Homo sapiens: one gene and its partners. The protein of the gene in region 1 interacts with the protein of each later gene in a biochemical or structural test. Each region holds a gene or a part of one and is shown on either strand. Other genes may lie near its edges.

Region 1 (3,657 bases):
ACCTAATTAAACTAAAGAGCTTCTGCACAGCAAAAGAAACTATCAGCAGAGTGAACAGGCAACCTACAGAATGGGAGAAAATTTTTGCAATCTACCCATCTGACAAAGGGCTAATATCCAGAATCTACAAAGAAGTTAAACAAATTTACAAGAAAAAAGCAAACAACCCCATCAAAAAGTGGGCAAAGGATATGAACAGACACTTTTCAAAAGAAGACATTTATGCTGCCAACAGACATATGAAAAAATGCTCATCATTGCTGGTCATTAGAGAAATACAAATCAAAACCACAATGAGATACCAGCTCATGCCAGTTAGAATGGCGATCATTAAAAAGTCAGGAAACAACAGATGCTGGAGAGGATGTGGAGAAATAGGAACACTTTTACACTGTTGGTGGGAGTGTAAATTAGTTCAACCATTGTGGATGACAGTGTGGTGATTCCTCAAGGATCTAGAACTAGAAATACCATTTGACCCAGTGATCCCATTACTGGGTATATACCCAAAAGATTATAAATCATGCTACTATAAAGACACATGCACGCGTATGTTTATTGTGGCACTATTCACAATAGCAAAGACTTGGAACCAACCCAAATGTCCATCAGTAATAGACTGGATAAAGAAAACGTGTCACATATACATCATGGAATACTATGCAGCCATAAAAAAGGATGAGTTCATGTCCTTTGCAAGGACATGGATGAAGCTGGAAACCATCATTCTCAGCAAACTATCACCAGGATAGAAAACCACACACCACATGTTCTCACTCATAAGTGGGAGTTGAACAACGAGGACACATGGACACAGGGAGGAGAACATCACACACCGGGGCCTATCTGGATGGAGGGCTGAGGGAGGGATAGCATTAGGAGAAATACCTAATGTAAATGAAGAGTTGATAGGTGTAGCAAACTAACACGGTACATGTATACCTATGTAACAAATCTGCACATTGTGCACATGAACCCCAGAACTTAAAGTATAAAAGAAAAAAAATTAGGCCATTTTCAAGTTTTTCTTGAATTTTAATTTCTGCTAGGCCCTCTTTATCTCCCCATGATGTGCATGTAGCCCTTTCAGTAAGGAGTGTATGGGGAGCTTGGGCCCTCTGTGGCCTTCCATTTATTTGCATGTAGCCTCCTAGTCAACTAGGGTTGTACGGGGAGCCTATGTAGTCCCTCTTTGGTTCTCTCATTTCCAAATCTCCTGGTGACATATCTGGCTGGTCCACTGATCTGTCCTTCACCCGAACCACGACTGAAGCTTCAGACTAGCAGAGCTGTGGGATCTTCCCATTCGTTTCCTATCAAATTTGCTCATTTTACTGGCAACACTGCTGAGTGTGGGCTTTTGCCCACTGCCTCAAATCAGGTCTGTCCCCTCTGGAAGTGAAACTGCTGGCTTTTGCAGCCTTCACCCTGTACCAACTGAGCTATGTAAAGGGACATTCGAACAGTCCCAGACAGTGAAGCTGCTATCTCCTACTTTCTTAGCTAACATATAGCAGCTGTTCATAGATCAGTACTTCTCACTTTGTTTGCCTTTGGTTCATTTCCAGATTTCCACCAAAATGATTGTTTTTGACAATGTTGTTCAGTTTTATAGTAGCTTTTTGAGAGAGGATTTTCTGACCATATCAGTGTAGTATAACCAGAAATCCCATATTTCAAATCTTTTGAAAATTTTTAACCATTTAGTATTAATATTGAAATGTCTTAATTTGGTATATAATGTCAAGATGCCCAGTGATATTTAGGATTTTAATTTCTTAATCTCAGCAATATAAAATATATTATGCTCTTAATATTAATTATAATGTTTATTCTTAAACATTTTATTTAGGAAATTATGATGTGATGACCCCAATGGTTGATATACTTATGAAACTTTTTCGAAATATGGTGAATGTGAAGATGCCATTTCACCTTACCCTTCTAAGTGTGTGCTTCTGCAACCTTAAAGCACTAAATACTGCTAAGAAAGGGCTTATTGATTATTATTTAATGCCATCATTATCAACTACTTCACGCTCTGGCAAGCACAGTTTTGTAAGTACACTCTTTTTTGTTCAGTTTTCTAAGTATACTCTTATGGGATTTGTGTGGTTACATTACAAATCTAAGTGCTTGTCTTTTTGATATAGTTTAGAGATTCTTTTGGGTGATATTGTTTAGGTGATTAACTTGTTTATAATACCTATCTTATGGTTTCTGGCCTTAAATATGCTGTGATCTAAGAAGAAAACATAAGCATCACTGGATAAAAGAGAGAACCATTATGGAGGTTCTCTATTTTGGAATTGTTAACACATTTTATAGTATATAAAAATATGATGGATTAGCTCATAAGTATTAAAATATTTGCAGATATTAGAAATCACATCTTTTTGTCTTTTAGCTGACACATGAGCTACTAGTACCTTTCCCATGATTCTTTTGTTAAAGTATTTACATTTTCTTCATTTTGAAATAGTATTGAATTTTGATAGCAATATTGATAGATTTGACTACTGATTTCATAGTTGTAAAGTTAACAGTGTGGCAATAGAAAGGCAGAGGCCAGTCACATTTTCAGACGACTAAAACAAAACCCTTTTATTAATAGACAAACCACTATTTAGTAAATGTGGGTTGCCTTAAAAACAATTATTTTTTACTAAATTGTTCATGCCTATAATTAACTCAATTTAAAATACTTTTGTGTTTGTTTAGTCAGTATAATTTTAGTAACCTTTTCATTTTCATTTAAGTTTAAAGTGAGAACAGGATAGTGTATGGAAATAGTGAATTAATGCTCTCTTCAAATTACTTTTTTCTGTGACCCTTCTTATTCCATTTATTAAATTTAAAAAAGTGTTTTCTTTTTACATTTTAATTAATCTGTGAAATTGGAATTAAAAGTGCTCATTTATAGTGGCATTAGAAAAGTAAATATAAGTGAAAGTACCTTGTATGTATTTGTCACACAGTAGGTAGTCAATAAATATAAGGGCCTGAATCTTTTCTACTACTTTTACTTTTTTGGAGTTCATATTGTGTTGATGTTTACGGAGTTATATTTGACTATGTTTATATTTTTATGGTGCTTGAAACTAAAGGATTTAAATGAAAAACTGTATAGAAAAATTATGCAAGTTAGAGTTGAAAGTGTCTTTAAATTTTTATTTTATATAAATATAAACTAGTACTATATCTTGATGATGTTGGGTTTTGTTATAGGCTTTTTTTTTCTTTTTGTTAAAAGTTACCCTTTAGAATAGTAATTTTTGGAAAACTAGCCCTTGATGCTATATGTGTATGTTTTTTTGAAAAATACCCTTAGGTGAACTTGCTTTTCTAGGCCGCCATTCTTTTATTTATAGAATTGAAAGTTTGGTTGCATGATTGTTACAATCTTCCCAGGTCTCCAAATGCATATTTACCTCTGTCTCAGTGCTATCTAGGAAGGAAACCTCTTCCTGGAATAGTGGGTAGAGATTCACAAAATAGTGTGAATAATTGTGGTAGTAGATCTCTAGTTGTTTGGAACTGGCCACAAAGAGTTGTATTTGTTGAGTAGGTTAGAAACATGTCAGATAATAGCTACAGGCACACAGCAGCAGCAGCGATATTTAAAAGATATCAGATATGTAAATTAGTCTGTTATTC
Region 2 (3,163 bases), on another chromosome or scaffold:
TTTTTTTTTTTTTTTTTTTTTTTTGCGAGGGTGTTGCCCAGGCTGGAGTACAGTGGCACAATCGTGGCTTACTGCTGCTGCCTCTAATTTCTGGACTCAAGTGATCCTCCCACCTCAGCCTCCCAAATAGCTGGTACTACAGGCATGCACCACTGTACTCAGCTAATTTTTGTTGTTGTTGTTGTTGTTGTTGTTGTTTTGGTTGAGACAGGGTTTCGCTGTGTTGTCCAGGCTGGTCTGGAACTCCTAGGCTCAAGTGATCCTCCCGCCTCAGTCTCCCAAGGTGTTGGGATTGCAGGTGTGAGCCACCATGCCCAGCCAATTCTAGCATTTTTTAAAAAACTGCTGAGATGATTTCTGGTGTCCTTGAGAATTCTTCAAATTATCTGAATATTAATTTCTAGCATTGATATTTAGAACAAGGTCCTTCTGACTTTTTTTAAGATATCTTTCAGGCTGGGTGCAGTGGCTTACCCCTGTAATCCCAGCACTTTGGGAGGCTGAGGCGGGTGGATCACCTGAGGTTGGGAGTTTGAGACCAGCCTGATCAACATGGAGAAATCCTGTCTCTACTAAAAATACAAAATTAGCCAGGCCTGGTAGCGCATGCCTGTAATCCCAGCTACGTGGGAGGCTGAGGCAGGAGAATTGGTTGAACCTGGGAGGCAGAAGTTGCAGTGAGCCGAGATTGTGCCATTGCACTCCAGCCTGGTCAACAAGAGCGAAACTCCATCTCAAAAATAAATAAATAAATCCTTTCATTGCCGTATCATCTAAAATAATGCCAATATTCTCACTGATTTTGGGGGACTGATGTTGGAAGATGACTCATGGAATTAAGAGGATCAGATGGTTCAAAGAATCTTGCCCTATCAAAGTTGTTTACAGCCTAAAAATATTTGATAAATGAAGGTATGTTCAAAGCCTTCTCATTCTCCAAAGCAGTGCTGCTGAGAATATGCATCTTTTAGAAGGCAGTAGATCCCAAAGACCAACATAGGATGTTTTACCTAGAAGACAAATTGTACATTGGGCTTTAAGGACTCATGAAACCATTGCCTGTTTCAGACGCTGACCGGAAAGGAGATTGAGATTGACATTGAACCTACAGACAAGGTGATGCATGCCCAACTCCTCTTCATGTACTTCTTGCCATGTGTATTTGTTTGCATATGCTTATGAACTTGGTCCTTTTGCTCTCATGCTGTCTGCATAGCCCTTGTTCTTTCCGTTTCCATGGTCCTACCCCTAAGCAGCAGCCCCTGACTACTTGTCTCTCTAAAGGTGGAGCGAATCAAGGAGCGTGTGGAGGAGAAAGAGGGAATCCCCCCACAACAGCAGAGGCTCATCTACAGTGGCAAGCAGATGTGAGTTTGGAGTGAGAATGACAGCATGGCGATCTTATGTGAAGATGAGAAGAGGAGAGGGGGCACGTACTGAGGTGGATCAGGGGTGCCTCTTGTTTTTGGTGCCTAAGACTCTTTGGCAATCTGGTGAAGCCTCTAAGCCCCTTCTCAGAATAAGATTTTTTCAGGCATAAAACAAAATATATAGAATTAAAGGAAAACTAATTATATTGAAATAGTTATTAAAATACTAAAACAAATTTGTGATATAGTAATATATGTACTTTTTTATTAATGCATAAGATCTAATGGTAGGTCTAATATGACCATAATTTTGAAATATTTTCAAGATACCTATAAATGATCATGATAGAAAATAGTTAATTGCTATTGTTAACAAGTTACCTATATTGCTAATACTACTGTGGTTTTTGGGCTATGTTTAAAGTTAGAAGAAATGTTAAATTTCAGTTGGGGGTTAGTAAAAATAAAGATGGGATTTTTTTTCTCATTCAAGTTCACAGACCCCCAAAGAGATCCAGGAAACTCAAGAACTCCTGTTCTGGCCGGGCGCAGTGGCTCACGCCTGTAATCCCAGCACTTTGGGAGGCTGAAGGGGGTGGATCACCTGAGGTCAGGAGTTCGAGACCAGCCTGGCCAACATGGTGAAACCCCATCTTTACTAAAAATACAAAAATTAGCTGGGCGTGGTGGTGGGCGCTTGTAATCCCAGCTACTCAGGAGGCTGAAGCAGGAGAATTGCTTGAACCCAGGAGGTGGAAGTTGCAGTGAGCTGAGATCGTGCCACTGTACTCCAGCCTAGATGACAGAGCGAGACTCTGTCAAAAACAACAACAACAACAACAACAACAACAACAAAAAACTCCTAAGTCTTCTTTTTCTTTTTTTTCTGGCTTCCTTTTCCTGCAGGAATGATGAGAAGACAGCAGCTGATTACAAGATTTTAGGTGGTTCAGTCCTTCACCTGGTGTTGGCTCTGAGAGGAGGAGGTGGTCTTAGGCAGTGATGGACCCTCCATTTTACCTCTTTACCCTGTCGCTCATAATGAGGCATCATATATCCTCTCACTCTCTGGGACACCATAGCCACTGCCCCCTCCCCTGGATGCCCAGTAATGTATGTCTACTGGTGGGAGACTGTGAGGATCCCAGGATTCAGTATTCCTGGCCCAGAGGGCCCTTGCTGGCTACTGGGTGTTAGTTTGCAGTCCTGTGTGCTTCCCTCTCTTATGACTGTGTCCCTGGTTGTCAATAAAATATTTCCTGGCCTCCTGGAATCTTTCTTCTGTTGCACAAGTTGACTGAAATAAAAATGGACCTAATGCTCACTCAGTTATAGCAGGCTGAAGGAATCGGACAGTGGAAGGAATGGTGCTCTTACGGGGATTATCAGACTCTAGGAAAACCTACTTAGTGGTGTGTTGGAACCAGTTCCTAGTGGCTAATGAGAGCCAATTATTGGCACCTTTTTCCAACTCTATTAAGTGACTTCATGTTGGTAGCTTGAAATTGGCCATGGTAGGATTATTTACAGAAACTAGCAAACACTACAGATCAGTTCCTCCCCACAAACTGGTTGTTATACATCTACCAGTGTAGTGCTGACATGGATGGTGAAACCTTCGGAGAGTGAATTCTCTCTTGACTGTGGCTGTACTGGACATTTAGGCCTGGTTGGAGAACGCCTTCAAGGGTTTGGCTGACACTGTACTCTATGGCTGGAATATTACTGAGGACTTTGGGTTCTACACTGTCAGGAGGTTGATAATGCAGAAAGATTGAGTGACAAGCTGTGAT
Region 3 (3,657 bases), on another chromosome or scaffold:
TAAAAAATTATATGGTACATGTTTTATTTTTCAACTTGTATAAAAACCCATAATATATTTTACAGAGCTTTTGGAAAGTAGTATCAAGCAATTATAAGTATTTAGCCTAAGAGTATATGGATTTTATTAATAATTAATCCACATCTCTATTCAAATGCATTTTCCCTCTCTCTCTTTTGACCAAAACTCATGCTGTTAGCTGAGAAAATTCCCTTTTCATAGTTCAGTCCATTTGGAATTTGTTGTCTTGTTCATTGGTTTCTTCCGTGTTTAACAATAGCAAAATTTAATATATTTGGAGCTTTTTTGAAACTTTCACTCAATGGTTAAAGAACTCATAAATAAATGTGAAATTATCAGAAAATGTGCATAGCTCAAAGGTGTTTCCTAAGAAGGGGAAGTAACTTCCTCTAAGTTATCTGTTATTTCTGGCCACAAGGTCACTAATAGGCTGATGTGTGCAACCAAAATTATTGAAAAAGTGTACTACCAACTCGAAGCAGGTTTTTTAAAACTTCAGATTAAAAAGACAATGTGTTGAATATAGAAGACCATGATAAATGAGCAATTTCATTGTAATACTCAAACCGGGACTCACTCACATTTTATATTTTAAAATAAAATGGTAAATATTGGGAAAATTGCGTATTTCTATGTGAGGGCTGATCGTGAGTTAACTGGCTGACTTGCAAGGCTTTCTGGCACTTCCCGTCTCCCTCCCTAGCCCGAGTGATTGTGGAGGGTCCCTGCAGCTAACAGAGTGGGGTGAGCAGCCGGTGGCCATGCTTCCGGAACTCTCTCCATCAGGAAGGAGCAGATGGATGTGAACCAGGAACACATTCATCCACAGAAAACCCAGCCTCTGCTGTGAGCGGGGGGCGAGGGAGGAAGGTTAGCCAGGATGAGGCACGGTGTTAAACCCTACTTAGGCTCAGGCAAAATAAATACATAACTAAGTCAAATGTAGAGGCAACGGTTAGAGATAGAAAACAGGCATTTGGTTAGTGACTAATTTCATATTCTCCAAAATTATAGCAGAGGTTCCCTCTGAACAAAAGCTCTCAAAATGTTACAGAAATTCCCTCCTGCCTTTTGCAAACATACAAAGTCTGTAGGAAAACAAATCAAATAGCCTAAAAGTTTATTGGAAAGGAAAAAGAAAATTCCAACTTATCCTAGCAAATATTTCTTTAAGAATAAAAATGGAAAAAATTAAAGGAGGTTGCTAAGGGCCCTTTTATATCGAACATGCTTTTAGTGTCTACAGAGTCAGCACAGCGAATATATTGGGACCAACAGAAGAAGACTGTAATCCGGCAAATGTGAGCTAAGTTATGGCTAAAGGCAAATTCTGCACGTCTCCTGGTTAAAAAGGAACCCTTTGATAATCAAAGTGGGGTGCTTGGGAAGCGCTCAGAAAACCAAAGGGCTTCACCTTCCTTTAGGCTGTGGTACATTCCTAAGTATCCGAAAGTATTCTGAATCATCTACCTGCGTTCTGTCTTCCTGGCACGCGCTGACTGGTTTCCCATGAAAGCATGCAACCTGTACGTAAGACCCTACGCTCTTGCTGGGAGGCAGGGGCGGGGCCAGCATTACCTGTGTTTCTAGCATGCATTAACCGTGGAGAGTTTTGTAAGGCTTTATCAACATCATCTGAAGTCAAATGTGGAAGAGGAGCTACAAAACAAAACAAAAAGCGACATCAAAATGAAAAAAAAAAGAGAGAGAGAGAAAGAGAATTACCTTTCTTACAAAAAAAAAAAAAAAAAAAGAAAGAAAAAGAAAGAAAGAAAACCGTTCCCCCACTCCCACACTAACATCATGGGAAGCTTATAACTATTTCCAGCAACCTGCTACTTGTTAGCATGTTAAAACCTACATGGGGGCCCGTCTTTAATTCAGGGAAGAAGTGGTTGGGATGCCAGGCAAAGCAATGGAGGAGAATTTATCCACCTCACTGTCTGTCACACTACTTCCTTCTCACCATGCTGGACGTTGTAGAAATTAAAGCATGCAGCAAACATTCTGGATTCATGCCAACATGCCATCCCTTTCTGTCAGGTTAAGCCGAATCACATGATACAAAGTGAAAACTTCCCTTGTTCTGTGCTCAGGTTAGAATATAAAGTGGGGCTTCATGTAGCTTTAGGGAGAATAATCCCCCTAATTCCTACGAAAGAGAAGCCTTAATGATTCTATTTCGATTCGGGGTATCATGGAGACTTAACTAATGTGTGACCAGTTAACGCTTCCTTTCCCCTTTGACATTCCATCTTCTTGGTCGCAGGACCCTGGAGGAGGCAGCTGAGTGTTGAAGTGAATTTTGGCTTCTCCTGAGAGCGCTGACTACTTCTCATCAGGTGATGTGGCCAGGGTGTTGCTCCCCTAAGTCATCACATACCAAGCATGTGGCTCCCTCGGATCCCCAGTGGGAACTGGGCGAGGGCAGGAGGATGCTGTCGACACACCTGGTTGAACCCTCTGAAGCTCAGGTCATAAGAACCATAGCCACAGCCATCTATCCTTGGAGGAAGGGGGAGCTTACTCTCTCTGAGGTAGTGGAGATGTGAGAGAAGGATGTCGGCGTTGTAGCTGGGGGTGAGCCTCTGGAAGTCGTCCTTGGTCATCTTGCACAGTTCCTTCCCATCGATGTTCTGGAATAACAAGATGTTGACGTCTGGAAGGCCATATTCTTTCACCGCCCACTCCAGCCACTGCCGCACATGGTCTGTACTCCATAGCGTAGGATCTGAAAGGGGTGGGAACACATTCAGTCAATTCCTGAAGCCAGGGATCTTCATCTTGGGGTAGATCCCCATCCACGTGGGATTTCTGACCAGCTGCCTTCCACAAGCACAGCCTCCAGCCAGCCTCCCTGGCTACCCAGGAGAACATTTTGGGGGAAAGACAAAAGCTGCCTCACATCCATAGATCATTGTCTTTAAAGTGAATAGTTCTGGAATCTTGGGATTATTCACATCACATGCCCTTGTTTTTGCTCAATCTAAAGTTTCCTGTAGGCATAAGATTTTAAAAATTCTTTTTTCTCATTTATGTTCAATTTTATTTATTTATTTTAAAATGAGTAAGAATAAGAGGAAACTTCTTTTCCTTAGAAAACTACTGGTATATTTATATATATTTATATGGAAATAAGAGTAAGCCACACATATCAGGAAGGTGCTAATTACAGATCACAACAACAACAAAAATAATAATAACAGTATTTATGCAAAATACTGAAAAATACTGACCACAGAATCGGAAATGAAATATAGATACACCAAGACTCTAGCCCCTCCTATGAGCCAGCGTTCCTCATAGAGAGCTGTCAGTTCCAGACTTTTCCTGCAGGGTGTTTGGTTTTGCAATTAACCAGCACCTGCAGGAGTGGGGTTGGTGAGTGGTTTTTGCATTCCACAGCTGGCCATGGCGAGCACAAACACCCCACAGGATGCAGGCCACGTCGTCACACTCCAGTGCTACCTATGGGACAGGGAGAGCAGGGCCCGGGGGAGAAGGAGCAGGTGATCTCCAACAGAAACGCCAGCCGGGATGTCCTGTGGTAAACACCCTCAGTGGTAGGGTCTTCAGAGTGTGGTAAATGGGGCGGCTGCTCCCTTGGGCCCCGAGCCCTGAGAGACACATGGGCAG

Evidence for each region.
Region 2: the proteins of POLI (region 1) and NEDD8 form a complex in vitro, tested with the Homo sapiens proteins (2 studies listed by BioGRID, with this or other methods).
Region 3: the proteins of POLI (region 1) and ERG form a complex in vitro, tested with the Homo sapiens proteins (one large-scale study listed by BioGRID).

The regions. Positions count from the first base shown.
Region 1 is NC_000018.10:54,289,981-54,293,637, forward strand, and holds part of POLI (DNA polymerase iota isoform a (long)), read left to right. Parts: intron 1-1,852; coding exon 1,853-2,058; intron 2,059-3,657. UniProt on the Homo sapiens protein: Error-prone DNA polymerase specifically involved in DNA repair. Plays an important role in translesion synthesis, where the normal high-fidelity DNA polymerases cannot proceed and DNA synthesis stalls. Favors Hoogsteen base-pairing in the active site.
Region 2 is NC_000014.9:24,216,337-24,219,499, reverse strand, and holds the end of NEDD8 (ubiquitin-like protein NEDD8), read left to right. Parts: intron 1-1,068; coding exon 1,069-1,116; intron 1,117-1,284; coding exon 1,285-1,367; intron 1,368-2,276; coding exon 2,277-2,373; 3' UTR 2,374-2,643; downstream 2,644-3,163. Other genes in the region: NEDD8-MDP1 protein, read left to right, coding at 1,069-1,116, 1,285-1,367. UniProt on the Homo sapiens protein: Ubiquitin-like protein which plays an important role in cell cycle control and embryogenesis via its conjugation to a limited number of cellular proteins, such as cullins or p53/TP53.
Region 3 is NC_000021.9:38,400,958-38,404,614, forward strand, and holds part of ERG (transcriptional regulator ERG), read right to left. Parts: intron 2,753-3,657; coding exon 2,549-2,752; intron 1,681-2,548; coding exon 1,600-1,680; intron 1-1,599. UniProt on the Homo sapiens protein: Transcriptional regulator. May participate in transcriptional regulation through the recruitment of SETDB1 histone methyltransferase and subsequent modification of local chromatin structure.